4 linked regions of the Homo sapiens genome follow. The protein of the gene in region 1 interacts with the protein of each later gene in a biochemical or structural test. Each region holds a gene or a part of one and is shown in the gene's direction. Other genes may lie near its edges.

Region 1 (2,170 bases):
GCTACAAGAAGACCAAGGAAGCTGTTTTGCTCCTTAAGAAACTTAAAGCCTGGAATGATATCAAAAAGGTCCGTTCAATGAGCACATTTACAGTTTGGTACTCCTTGTTCACAGTTTGTCACTTTGAATTTCAGAAGATAAGGGCAGTATAGCTAATCCTTAATGTGTGAGAGAACAAGAACCTCAGAGCCCGATTACTTGGGTTTGAATCCTAACTGCTGTTTATGGCTCTGTGTAACCTTGGCAAGTTATTGTGCCCAGTTTAATCATCTGTAAAAAGGAATTAAAACTCTGAAGATCTATTGCAGAGATTCTATCTTAATCAGAATACTAAAACTGCTCACTTTGTAGGTCTATGCCTCTCAGCGAATGAGAGCTGGCAAAGGCAAAATGAGAAACCGTCGCCGTATCCAGCGCAGGGGCCCGTGCATCATCTATAATGAGGATAATGGTATCATCAAGGCCTTCAGAAACATCCCTGGTAATTAAACTGCTTACATATATTGACTAGGTATACTCTGCAAGTCTACTCAGCTTTTGTTATGATGAGATTCCACTTAAGGTCCGTGTTTCTGAAACAAATGATTTTGTGGAAGTTCTGATTTATGGCTGAAAGAGTTGCACCATTGATGGTTGAAACTTCATAATTAATAAGTTCTCAGGTACCTTTTATAGCTCTTAAGCCATAAAGATGATTTGTGTTTCTTTTGTTGGAATACAGGCTCCCTAATTTTTCTTTCCCTTTAAAAGGAATTACTCTGCTTAATGTAAGCAAGCTGAACATTTTGAAGCTTGCTCCTGGTGGGCATGTGGGACGTTTCTGCATTTGGACTGAAAGTGCTTTCCGGAAGTTAGATGAATTGTACGGCACTTGGCGTAAAGCCGCTTCCCTCAAGAGTAACTACAAGTAAGTATCTTTCATATACTAAGCACAGATGTTTATATTGTGGATATTAACATTCAGAATTGGCTTACATGTTTTCTAAATTTATTCCCATTTCCCCTTATGTGCAGCAACAGTATGCCAAAATGAGACTCACCTGGTCTATATTTTTGGTTTTTTGTTTTGTTTTTGAGACAGAGTTGTTCTGTCTCACCCACGCTGGAGTGTAGTGGTGTGATCGTGGCTTACTGCAGCCTCCGCCTCCCGGGTTCAAGCAGTTCTCCTGTCTCAGCCTCCCAAGTACCTGGGACTACAGGCTTGTGCCACCACACCCGGCTAATTGTAGAGTTGGGGTTTTACCATGTTGGCCAGGCTGGTCTGGAACTCCTGACCTTAGGTGATCCACCCGCCTCGGCCTCCCCAAGTGCTGGGATTATAGGGGTGAGCCACCACACCCGGCCTGGTCCATGTTTATGAGAAGTGATAGTGTAGTAGATATTTTGGAGAGCATAGTGGCTAAAAATAAAGCTTCAGTTGAGCTTCCTGTTCTTTGGTTGATTACTTTTACATGTACATGTCAATCTTTTCCCTTTCAGTCTTCCCATGCACAAGATGATTAATACAGATCTTAGCAGAATCTTGAAAAGCCCAGAGATCCAAAGAGCCCTTCGAGCACCACGGTAAAGTGATACTTAGAGTGTAATTCTCGCCCCAACCCTATACTATTGGTTGTTTCAAAAATTTGTATGTGTATAATGTTAAGTAAAATGTTGATACAGTATCTGCTTTTTTATAGCAAGAAGATCCATCGCAGAGTCCTAAAGAAGAACCCACTGAAAAACTTGAGAATCATGTTGAAGCTAAACCCATATGCAAAGACCATGCGCCGGAACACCATTCTTCGCCAGGCCAGGAATGTGAGTGGAGTTTTTGTTTGTTTGTTTGTTTTTGAGTCGGAATCTCGCTCTGTCACCCAGGCTGGAGTGCAATGGCGTGATCTCAGCTCACTGCAACCTCCACCTACCAAGTTCAAGCAGTTCTTCTGTCTCAGCCTCCCAAGTAGCTGGCACTACAGGCGCACGCCACCATGTCCGGCTAATTTTTGTATTTTCAGTAGAGACGGGGTGTCACTATATTGTTAGGCTGGTCTCAAACTCCTGACCTCAGGTGATTCACCTGCCTCGGCCTCCCAAAGTGCTGGGATTACAGGCGTGAGCCACCGTGCCCGGCTGGTTTGTTTTGTTTTTGTTTTTCTCTTCCTGATACATTAAGTTCTTACAGGGATTT
Region 2 (3,511 bases), on another chromosome or scaffold:
CTGTGTGTGGCATAGGGCTGCTGCGGTTTCAGCACTCCCTCTTTAACACATCTTATTTCTAAATGTTCTCCTGCACATGATTTTTAAAAAATGATTATTAATGTAGAGTATAAAGTTGAGATTTTTTCATGTATTAGAAACATTGCAGACTTTTTCATTATTTGTTTTCTCATTATTTGAGTGCCTTGGCCATTTAAAAAAATCTACATGGATATAAAAACTATGTTCATTTATATATTTTCCTTTATTTGTCTTCTAAATAATATTGTCTTCTTGTTAAGTTGTCTCTTGTTTGGTTTGTGTAGCATCTCATATGGTATCAACCACGTTGTCTATAGTAGATGCCCAGTATTGTACCCAATTGCTTTGGGTTACTACCACCATTTTTAAAGTTTATAATTTGTGAAGGGTTGTCCTTATGTCTTAAGGAAAATCAGAGCTAATAACAGCTGCTAAGATTTATTTAGTAGGTACTAAGTGGTAAGTACTGCTCTAGGGGCTTTCGATGAATTGATTCAGTTAATTCTCACAATTATCCTGTAAGGTTGGTATTATTTTTATTAATTTTTATTTTTTTTGAGACGGAGTTTCGCTCTTGTTGCCCAGACTGGAGTGCAATGGCACGATTTCGGCTCACTGCAACCTCTGCCTCCCGGGTTCAAGCGATTCTCCTGCCTCAGTCTCCCGAGAAGCTGGGATTACAGGCACCCGCCACCACGCCCAGCTAATTTTGAATTTTTAGTAGAGACGGGGTTTCTCCATGTTGGTCAGGCTGGTCTTGAACTCCTGACCTCAGGTGATCTACCCGCCTCGGCCTCCCAAAGTGCTAGGATTACAGGCGTGAGCCACCGCGCCCGGCCAGGTGGGTATTATTATCATTTCTATTATGTCAACTGGAAAACAGAGGCACAAAGAGGCTTAGTCATTTGCTCAAGATTGTATACCTAATAAGGGATGGTGCTGGGTTGGAACTCAGAAGGTCTTGTTCTAAATTCCCTACTTTTCACCATTTTTTGCCAATAATTTATAGCTCTAAAATATTGATAGTTCTGTACCAATATATGAAATAAAGTGTTCTCTCCCCAGAACTTAGTAAATCTTCTATTTTGAAAGGCATGTATTTATTAATTCATTTAGCAGATGTTTTTTGAGTGCCTAACACATGCCTAGAACTCTGGGATCCCAAAGGAGCTTTGTGTTGTGGTGATGTTTGCCACAATGGGATTAAGGTTCAGACATAGTTGATTTCTCCTTTTAGCTCATAGTGGGGAGAATTTCTGGCAGATGACTGCATTTTTTTATGCTAATGTGTATCATCTCATAGTAATCTACTCTCCACAGTGTTAGAAAAATGTGGCTCTCATATTATCCAACCTCATTTAAATTTCAAATTATTCTCTTCCCTTTAGAATATTCTTACAAGCTCCGTTTTAATGGCACCAGCATCAGAAGATGAAGACAATGTTCTCAAAGCATTTACAGTACCTAAAAACAGGTCCCTGGCGAGCCCCTTGCAGGTAATTACTATTCCAACATTGGTATTTTAAAATTCATTCACTGAAAAACTGTCATCTTTGGTGGTGGTGGTGGTGGTGGTGATGGTAGTGCTGGTGGTCTGTTTTTCGTTTTCAACATTTTAGACATAGGGGAGTAATGCTTTTATACAATTCTTGATGTCTAGAAAAATCCAATAATTCCTTTTTGCTACTCATATGAGACATGCTAGAAATTTTTATCAGTGCAGATTCCCCAAAGCATGATGAAATGAAACATTTCTTACTGTGACTGAGACTAAGATGTATTACACGTGTGTCACTATCTTCTTCTGCCCTCAAATGTTTTATAAAAATATATCAATATAGTTTACTTTATGTTCCAAATTTTTTATTTTTTATGCTGTATCCCTAGGCAACCAAAGCTCAGAGACTGTTCCAATTTTAAATGAAGTCTGAAATTAGTCAGACAGAAAATAATTGCAATGTATTTGACTGTCAGAATAAGAAAGTCAACTGTCAATGTTGTGAGGCCGATCTGAAGTTGACCATCTGCTGTCAGGTTTTAATATCAAAAGAGATTTCCCTTGTAACCCTAAAGTGGGTGTGTGTTGATGAAATATAACCAATTCCAAATTAATCCTGAGCCAAATGTAAATAAGAATGCAAATTTTGCTTCCCTAAATTATTTAAAGCAGTTTCTGACATTAAATAGCCCAATACCCAGCCACCTGCAGAGCCCTCTCCTCCATCCCCCTGTGCCATGCAGAGGGAAACTTCATAACCCTAGAGGAAGTGAAGAGCCTGGATTCAGAAGCTGAAGGTCATATTTCTTGCTGTAAGTTAAATGGCACGATCATAGGACAGCAGCCTTTGAGTCTGCCCATTACCTTAAAGGGATTTCCCATTCTTGTGATAGTTTCTCCTTCCAAATTGTGAGAATCTGAAAACTTGCCCGGTAAGTATTTGTGATGCTTAGTTTTTCAGGGTTTTTTGTTGATGTTGCTTTGTTTTTTGAAACAGGGTCTTACCCGGTGGCCCAGGCTGGAGTGTAGTGGGGTGATCTCGGCTCACTGCAACCTCCGCCTCCCAGATTCAAGTGATTCTTATGCCTCAGCCTCCCAATTAGCTGGAATTACAGGTGTGAGCCACCGGCAACCCAGCCGTTTTTTTGTATTTTTGGATAGAGACAAGGTTTTGCCATGTTGGCCAGGCAGGTCTCGAATTCCTGGTTTCAAGTGATCTGCCCACCTCGGCCTCCTACAGTGCTGGGATTACAGGTGTGAGCTACCGCACCTAGCCAGTGCGTAGTATTATTGTAAAATAAGGATTGCAAGCACATTTTGTTTAATTAAATCAGATTGCTTCCTTCCTGGCCTCTCTCTGACAGCAATTGTTTTGGTAAAATGGCTGTGGACTGGAATGTGAGACAGGGAGTCAGTATTTATGGGGAATCTGGACAAGTTCCTGCGTCAGTGAGGCTGGAGTTGGCCCCGTGTGGAGAAGACTCAGAATACCACAAAGAGGCCAGACGCAGTGGCTCATGCCTGTAATCCCAGCACTTTGGGAGGCCAAGGCGGGTGGATAACTTGAGGTCAGGAGTTTGAGACCAGCCTGGCCAACACGGTGAAACCCCATCTCTACTAATCCCAGCTACTCGGGAGGCTGAGACAGGAGGATCGCTTGAACCCAGGAGGCAGAGGCTGCAGTGAGCCGAGATCATGACACTGCACTCCAGCCTGGGTGACAGAATGAGACTCCATCTCAAAAAAAAGAATATCACAAATAATTGGGAGATGAGGAAGAGAATGAACTCCACCCAGACATAAGAGGAACCCAGAAAGGGAGTTACAAAGATTTCAAGGCAAAGGGCAGCCATTTCAAAATTTTCCTGAAAGCTGTTCTTAGGTCCAGAAGAAAAGCTTTTGCTTTTTTTTTTTTTTTTAATTATTCCCACCTAAGTTACTTGGCTCTTGGTTTCTAGAGAACAGAATTCAACTACTGCTATTCGTGTTTTA
Region 3 (3,511 bases), on another chromosome or scaffold:
ATATGTGCTTCTTTCCATCTACCACTTGACTCTGGTCCTCCCTATGCCAGATCAACTGCCTGTGACCCTTGACTGCTCCGCTTGGACAAGTGGTCTCTAAACTTACTTCCTGCTTTATCTTATGCTCGTTTTTAAACATTAGCCCATCCAGAAGCTGCAATATTCATTCATTAATTATTCATTTATTTAACAAGTGGTAATGAATGCCTGATACATGTCAGGCACTATTCTAGCTTCTTGGCATGCATTAATCAACAAAACTGACAAAGATCCCTGCTTTTATTTAGCTGACATTCTAGCAAGGAGAGACAGACAATAAAATGAGTAAACCATGGAGTATGTTAGAAGGCAACAACTGATACAAAAAAAAAAGAAGAGAAAAGCACAGCAGGATTAGGGGGATTGCATGTGGGGCTGGAGGTCAAGGTCACAGTGTAGGTTTTAGTCCTGAGTTATCAAATCTGACAGCCTTTTTCCATACCTTGGTCCACTGCTTTCACTGCTTCCCTGCCAAACTTCCCAAGACTCTGAGGCCAGGCTCCATCTCCCACAGCCCCATCTATTCAGCAGTTTGACTATGATGTCCCTTTCACACACCTGAACTTTGAGATTTCCAATTGCCCTGGCCTAAATGTCATAAACATCACACCCCTCTGCCTGGCTTTTGAAGCACTCTGCAATCTGACCTGGCCCATCCACTTCTGTGACACTTGGTTTTACCAGTTCGGGTGCATTTGCCCTTGTTGCCTTGAGAGTGACTTGCTCATGCATCTGGAATTTCTTCAGCAGATAAGCCCTGTGTTAGAATTGGGGACAGAGGGATGAATTAAATTCCATTTCTGTTCTTGAGATGGCCACGGCCCAGTGTGGAAAAAAGTTTTCCAGCAGTTACAAGACGTTATGGTAAGAGTTGTCTCAGAGTTGTCCTCTCCCTGCCCTGCAGCAGGCATGGCTTCCTAGACAGCACCTAGTTGGAGCCCTGAAGGATGACAGTCTGAAGTTTCTCAGTCCAGCAGGGAAAGGGCACTCAAGACAGAGGCTTTTCCCTCAGTTGCAGTCTGTGTCTCTCAAGGGCATTCTCTTCTCTTGCTTTGTATTCCCCATCTGCTTTACAGGCCATTTGCCAAGATTAGTTGTTAATAATAATGCTACACAAATCATCTGAAGCTCAGGGAGCAGTAAAATATGAAGCTTGACAGCTCTGGTGAGGCCAGTTTTTGGAAGACTTGTATGCTTTTGGGAGCAGTTTGGCCTTGATCCAGCTAGAAGTCAGATGAGCAAGGCCAAGATGGGAGAAGACATGCAAGGAAGACATTTGTCCTCTGCCCAAAAGAGTCCACGTGGTCTGCTCCTAGTGGGAGCTGAGAGCCACTAAAAGGGGCAGAGGGCCTGGGAGTGGACCACAGAGGCATGTGCCTTTTGCACTGGCATTGTGCAGAGACAGTAGATCACACAGCCAGCGTATGAGTGTGGGGACTAGAACTGATGCCTTTGCCACAACATGTGCTCCTGCCTTGGTGCTCTGCTGAGTGCAAGCAAAAGTGGGATCCATGAGGGGAAATGTTTAACAGCAGTTTGAGGTGGAGGAGGCCATGTGTTATAAGGGAAAGTTGATTGATCTGAAAGTCAGGAACCTTGGGTTCCTTGGCTCTTGAGCACATTATAGACATTCTTGAGTAGAACTAAGATCTTGAAAGCCCTTCTAGTTCTGAAAACTAGTAATATAGAGAAGAGGTAGGAGAAAGGCATGGCTAAGAACCCAGGCTCTGGAATCAGACTGCCTGAGCTCAGGTCCCCATTCCTCGATGTGACCTAAGGCATATTACCTATCTCTTCCGTTTCCTTATTTGTAAAATGGAAATAAAGTAATCTATTGTGATGTTGTTGTGTGGGCACAAATGAGGTAATACACTGTAATGACTTAGCACAATGTGATACAGAGTAATCACTCCTCAGATAGATATCTTAAAAAATAATTGGGTCTTGGGAGAGGACTGGCCTGTAGGGTCTGATTTGGGAGTTATTGTGGTGTGAAGCAATGTGATGTCTGAGTGTGATGAGCGCTGAGAGAGCATGATTTGGGGAAATCAGAACTTTGAGAGGTCAGTCAGTTCAGAAGTGTGGAGGAATAGGCAGAGCCGGTGAAAATAACGAGCCTAGGATCCAAGATTTTAAAAAGTAGGAAAATGTCCAGTTACTGAAGCCAGGGGAGGAGAGCCCCAGGGAAGGGATACTTGGACAGCGTTGTCCAAAATGTAGGCTGGCAAAGTGGGGATGGGGCAAAGGCCCTGGGTTTGATTGGGTGGAACTAGAGGTCCAGGGTAGAGCTGGGGTATCCTCTGTCTACCCTCAGTGGTATCTTGTGTCCATATGTTCTAGGGGTAGATGTGATTAATGGGGCCCTCGAGTCAGTCCTGTCCTCCAGCAGCCGTGAACAATGGACCCCAAGTCATGTCAGTGTGGCCCCTGCTACCCTCACCATCTTGCACCAGCAGGTAAAGAGCTGGGGTAGAAGTCGTGGCTGCGCCTTGCCATAGAGGGGAGACTGGGGGTGAGGGGAAGAGCTGCTAAGATGGATGTGGAACACAGTGTGGGGTTGGTGTTCCTTTTTAACTGAGTTCCCTCCATGCAGACAGAGGCAGTGCTGGGAGAGTGTCGGGTGCGTTTCCTCTCCTTCCTGGCCGTGGGCAGAGATGTCCACACGTTTGCATTCATCATGGCTGCCGGCCCAGCCTCCTTCTGCTGCCACATGTTCTGGTGCGAGCCCAATGCTGCCAGCCTCTCAGAGGCTGTGCAGGCTGCGTGCATGGTAAGCTACTAGTAGGGTGGTGTGGTGGTGGCGTGGCCCCATGGGAGGTAGGCTGGGGAGTGACTGCCCTGCTTGCCTCCGCAGCTTCGCTACCAGAAGTGTCTGGATGCCCGTTCCCAGGCCTCCACCTCCTGCCTCCCAGCACCCCCTGCTGAGTCTGTGGCACGGCGTGTAGGGTGGACTGTCCGCAGGGGTGTTCAGTCGCTGTGGGGCTCCCTGAAGCCCAAACGGCTGGGGGCCCATACCCCATGAAGAAGCCCCCACCTTCCCTCCACCTGCTTGTGTTGGGCCCCAGGGAACTAAAGGGTGTGGGTCAGGGAGGGGTCTAGAGGCTATTCCTAGGCCTCAGGCCTCCCAAATATGCCCCTCCCCAGTAGCTACGGTTCCCTGCCTAGGAGCTGGGGAGGGAGAGATCTAATCCCTTCAAGGAAGTGATAACACTGGAGTGGTAACAAGAGGAGCAGGAAGCAAGGCCAGCCCTGGTTCTCCATCCCCATGTGTTTCAGGTGGAACAGGAGGAACTGGTCCAGGCCAGGCCTCATCCTCCTGGACCCAGCAGGGGCAGAAGGAGGAAGGGACTGGTCCAGGCATGGGTCCCTTCCCCCTGCTCCATGGGCACCTCTGCTGTATTGATATCACTAATAAAGTCTGTCTGCACTGCTGTGTGCCTTCTTATGCCTGTACCACACCATCAACCCATTA
Region 4 (3,511 bases), on another chromosome or scaffold:
GAAATGAGTCTGGGCCAGTGATTTAAACTCTAAGCCTCAGTTTCCCTATATGTTGTGTGCGGCTGACTCTTCTCTCCATACGGTGGGTGTGGCTGGGCCCAATCAAACTGCCCCCTCTTGGTTCCCTTTCCTTGTAGGCTGCATGCAGGGCATGGTGCCCTACCTGCCTGAGCTGATCCCGCACCTGATCCAGTGCCTGTCGGATAAGAAGGCCTTGGTCCGCTCCATCGCCTGCTGGACGCTGAGCCGCTATGCCCACTGGGTGGTCAGCCAGCCACCCGACATGCACCTCAAGCCCCTGATGACAGAGCTGCTCAAACGCATCCTGGATGGCAACAAGAGGGTACAGGAGGCGGCCTGCAGGTGACCCTGGACCCCTGATCCCACAGCCCCCACTCTCCCCCGGCCACCCTCTGGGAAGTGATGACACCTGTGACTGTTGATGTGGAACTGATTTATCGCGTATTCGTACTGGCTGATCCTGAGTTGCCCTCCCCAACTGCCCATGGCCCAGTGTCACCTGCCATGGTCCACTGAGCCCCCGCTTCATCCTCCCTCCCACCAGTGCTTTTGCCACCCTGGAGGAAGAGGCCTGCACGGAGCTGGTGCCCTACCTCAGCTACATCCTGGACACCCTTGTCTTTGCCTTTGGGAAATACCAGCACAAGAACCTGCTCATCCTCTATGACGCCATTGGCACCCTGGCCGACTCTGTAGGCCACCACCTCAACCAGCCGGTGAGACCCCAGAGCGGCTCCCGCCTCCCGATCCCCGTGCCCCTGGGCATCCAGTGACCTGGTGGCAACCCCGTGTTGCACGCCAGGGACGTGGCCGTGACCTCGACAGGCAGACAGACAGACCCGGCCCCGCCCTCGCCCTGCTCCCAGTCTAGTGGGGGAGAAAGACAGTTATGAGACAGCGTGGTAAGTGCTGTGCTTCGGGAACCAGGAGGTGGTAACCCAGGCTCCCGGGGGGTGGGGTGGGGCGGGCGGTGCTTGGACAGGTGAGAAGAATGAAGGCCTCGAGGTCTGGCCAGATGGCAGGCCTTTCAGGGTCCCATGAGCCACGGTGAGGCGCTCAGGCCTCATCACTCGGGCAACAGGTACCTGAGTCACAGTCTGCCACCCCGACCCAGGGAGCGCCCATTTCGTGCTCCCTCTCCAGGAATACATCCAGAAGCTGATGCCCCCACTGATCCAGAAGTGGAATGAGCTCAAGGACGAAGACAAGGACCTCTTCCCCCTGCTGGAGGTGAGTGGGCTCCTGCCCCTCACCCGAAACCCATCCTGCCCACCCTGCCTGAGTTCTCCCCACCTGCCTTCCTCCCTGCCAGTGTCTGTCATCGGTGGCCACCGCCCTGCAGAGTGGCTTCCTGCCTTACTGTGAGCCCGTCTACCAGCGCTGTGTCACCCTGGTGCAGAAGACACTGGCTCAGGCCATGGTGAGCAACCCTAGGCCCGTCACCTGTGCTTCTGCATTGGCCTGCCTCGGGCCTGCTCCACTTACCCGTGCCCCTGTCGGCATCTGTGTCTAGATGTACACCCAGCACCCTGAGCAGTATGAGGCTCCCGACAAGGACTTCATGATCGTAGCACTGGATCTGCTCAGCGGCCTGGCCGAGGGCCTGGGTGGTCACGTGGAGCAGCTGGTGGCCCGCAGCAACATCATGACATTGCTGTTCCAGTGCATGCAGGTGGGTGGGGACCCTGGACAGTGATGACACCCAGCAGCCTGCGTGGGCTGCCCCTGGTGGGGAGTCAGGGCCTGGTTGTGCCCAAAGGAAATCAGGGAAAAGGTGCTGTTCTAATTATTTTAAAGAGTAATCCTGGAGGCCGAGGCAGGATTGCTTGAGCCCAGGAGTTTGAGACCAGCCTGGGCAACATAGTGAAACCCCAGTTCTAAAATTAAAAAAAAAAATTTTTTTTAAAGCAAACAGTATTGAAAATAGAAAATGTGAGGCCAGGTGCTCACGCCTATAATCCAGCACTTTGGGAGGCTGTGGCAGGTGAATCACTTGAGGTCAGGAGTTTGAGAGCAGCTTGGCCAACACGGTGAAATCCTGTCTCTACGAAAAATACAAAAATTAGCCAGGCATGGTGGTAGGCGCCTGTAATCCCAGCTACTTGGAAGGCTGAGGCAGGAGAATTGCTTGAACCCAGGAGGCAGAGGTTGCAGTGAGCTGAGATCATGCCACTGCACTCCAGCCTGGGCAATAAACTGAGACTCTGTCTTCAAAAAAAAAGAAAGAAAAGAAAATAGAAAATGTGAAAGCCCAAGTCCCTGCCCCAGCACAGTTGGCTCTCTGTATCTGTGGGTTCTACATCCCAAGATTCAAGTAACCTCAGATTGAAAATACTCAGAGGAAAAATTACATCTGTACTGAACGCATACAGAAGTTTGTTCTTGTTATTATTCCCTAAACAATACAGTATAACAACTATTCCCATACTGTTGACATTGTATTAGATATAAGTGATTTAGAGATGATGCTAAGTGTACAGGAGAATGTGCATAGGTGCATATGCAAACACTATGCCCCCCCCACCGCCCCCCACCTGTTTTTTGAGACAGAGTCTCACTCTGTCACCCAGGCTGGAGTGCAATGGTGTGATCTCGGCTCACTGCAACCTTCACCTCCAGGGTTCAAGCAGTTCTCCTGCCTTAGCCTCTCAAGAAGCTGGGACTACAGGCGTGTCCCACTATGCCTGGCTAATTTTATTGTATTTTTAGTAAAGACAGGGTTTTGCCATGTTGGCCAGGCTGGTCTCAAACTCCTGACCTCAAGTGATCTGCCTGCCTCGGCCTGCCAAAGTGCTGGAGATTACAGGCATGAACCACTGCGCCTGGCCCTAACACTGTGCCACTTTATATCAAGGACTTGCACATCCGTGGATTTTTATATCTGCAGGGACCTGGAAAGAATCCCCCACGGACACTGAGGGATGACCGTTGGGGCACTGCCATCTCCCATTTGCAGATGTGGGCTGGAGGCTAGGGAGGTTAAGGAACAGCTAGGAGCTCTAGAACTGGAAAGTGGCAGAGGCTGGACATGCACCAGGGACTGTGCCCCCTGAGCTGTCCTGGTTAGAAGGAGGGGAGCCTAGCCACACTGATCTTACTTGAATCCCCAGGACTCGATGCCTGAGGTCCGGCAGAGCTCCTTTGCCCTCCTGGGAGACCTCACCAAAGCCTGCTTCATCCATGTCAAGCCCTGTATCGGTACGACACTCGCCTTGTCCCTAACCCATGACCCCAGCCCCGGCCTCAAGTGATGGAGAGCAATACCCGGGGATGACTGTGACCACATTGGGATGTATTCGTACTGTCTGATGGGGCCTGCTGGACTAGGTCCTGCAGCTTACCCTGGCTGGCCCTCCTTCTCAGCACCCCTGTTTCTCCCCACCAGCCGAGTTCATGCCCATTCTGGGCACCAACCTGAACCCAGAGTTCATCTCCGTCTGCAACAACGCCACCTGGGCCATTGGTGAAATCTGCATGCAGATGGGTGAGT

What was found. The genes of interacting proteins can lie anywhere in the genome.
Region 2: the proteins of RPL4 (region 1) and MYB form a complex in vitro, tested with the Homo sapiens proteins (one study listed by BioGRID).
Region 3: the proteins of RPL4 (region 1) and APBB1 form a complex in vitro, tested with the Homo sapiens proteins (one study listed by BioGRID).
Region 4: the proteins of RPL4 (region 1) and TNPO2 form a complex in vitro, tested with the Homo sapiens proteins (one study listed by BioGRID).

The regions. Positions count from the first base shown.
Region 1 is NC_000015.10:66,499,686-66,501,855, reverse strand, and holds part of RPL4 (large ribosomal subunit protein uL4), read left to right. Parts: coding exon 1-68; intron 69-351; coding exon 352-481; intron 482-537; exon of another isoform or gene 538-604; intron 605-750; coding exon 751-907; intron 908-1,479; coding exon 1,480-1,563; intron 1,564-1,679; coding exon 1,680-1,800; intron 1,801-2,170. UniProt on the Homo sapiens protein: Component of the large ribosomal subunit. The ribosome is a large ribonucleoprotein complex responsible for the synthesis of proteins in the cell.
Region 2 is NC_000006.12:135,201,808-135,205,318, forward strand, and holds part of MYB (transcriptional activator Myb), read left to right. Parts: intron 1-1,409; coding exon 1,410-1,517; intron 1,518-3,511. UniProt on the Homo sapiens protein: Transcriptional activator; DNA-binding protein that specifically recognize the sequence 5'-YAAC[GT]G-3'. Plays an important role in the control of proliferation and differentiation of hematopoietic progenitor cells.
Region 3 is NC_000011.10:6,395,084-6,398,594, reverse strand, and holds the end of APBB1 (amyloid beta precursor protein binding family B member 1), read left to right. Parts: intron 1-2,379; coding exon 2,380-2,495; intron 2,496-2,632; coding exon 2,633-2,809; intron 2,810-2,893; coding exon 2,894-3,061; 3' UTR 3,062-3,470; downstream 3,471-3,511. UniProt on the Homo sapiens protein: Transcription coregulator that can have both coactivator and corepressor functions. Adapter protein that forms a transcriptionally active complex with the gamma-secretase-derived amyloid precursor protein (APP) intracellular domain.
Region 4 is NC_000019.10:12,703,422-12,706,932, reverse strand, and holds part of TNPO2 (transportin-2), read left to right. Parts: intron 1-137; coding exon 138-363; intron 364-414; exon of another isoform or gene 415-484; intron 485-565; coding exon 566-737; intron 738-1,164; coding exon 1,165-1,251; intron 1,252-1,333; coding exon 1,334-1,441; intron 1,442-1,534; coding exon 1,535-1,693; intron 1,694-3,131; coding exon 3,132-3,219; intron 3,220-3,261; exon of another isoform or gene 3,262-3,336; intron 3,337-3,406; coding exon 3,407-3,505; intron 3,506-3,511. UniProt on the Homo sapiens protein: Probably functions in nuclear protein import as nuclear transport receptor. Serves as receptor for nuclear localization signals (NLS) in cargo substrates.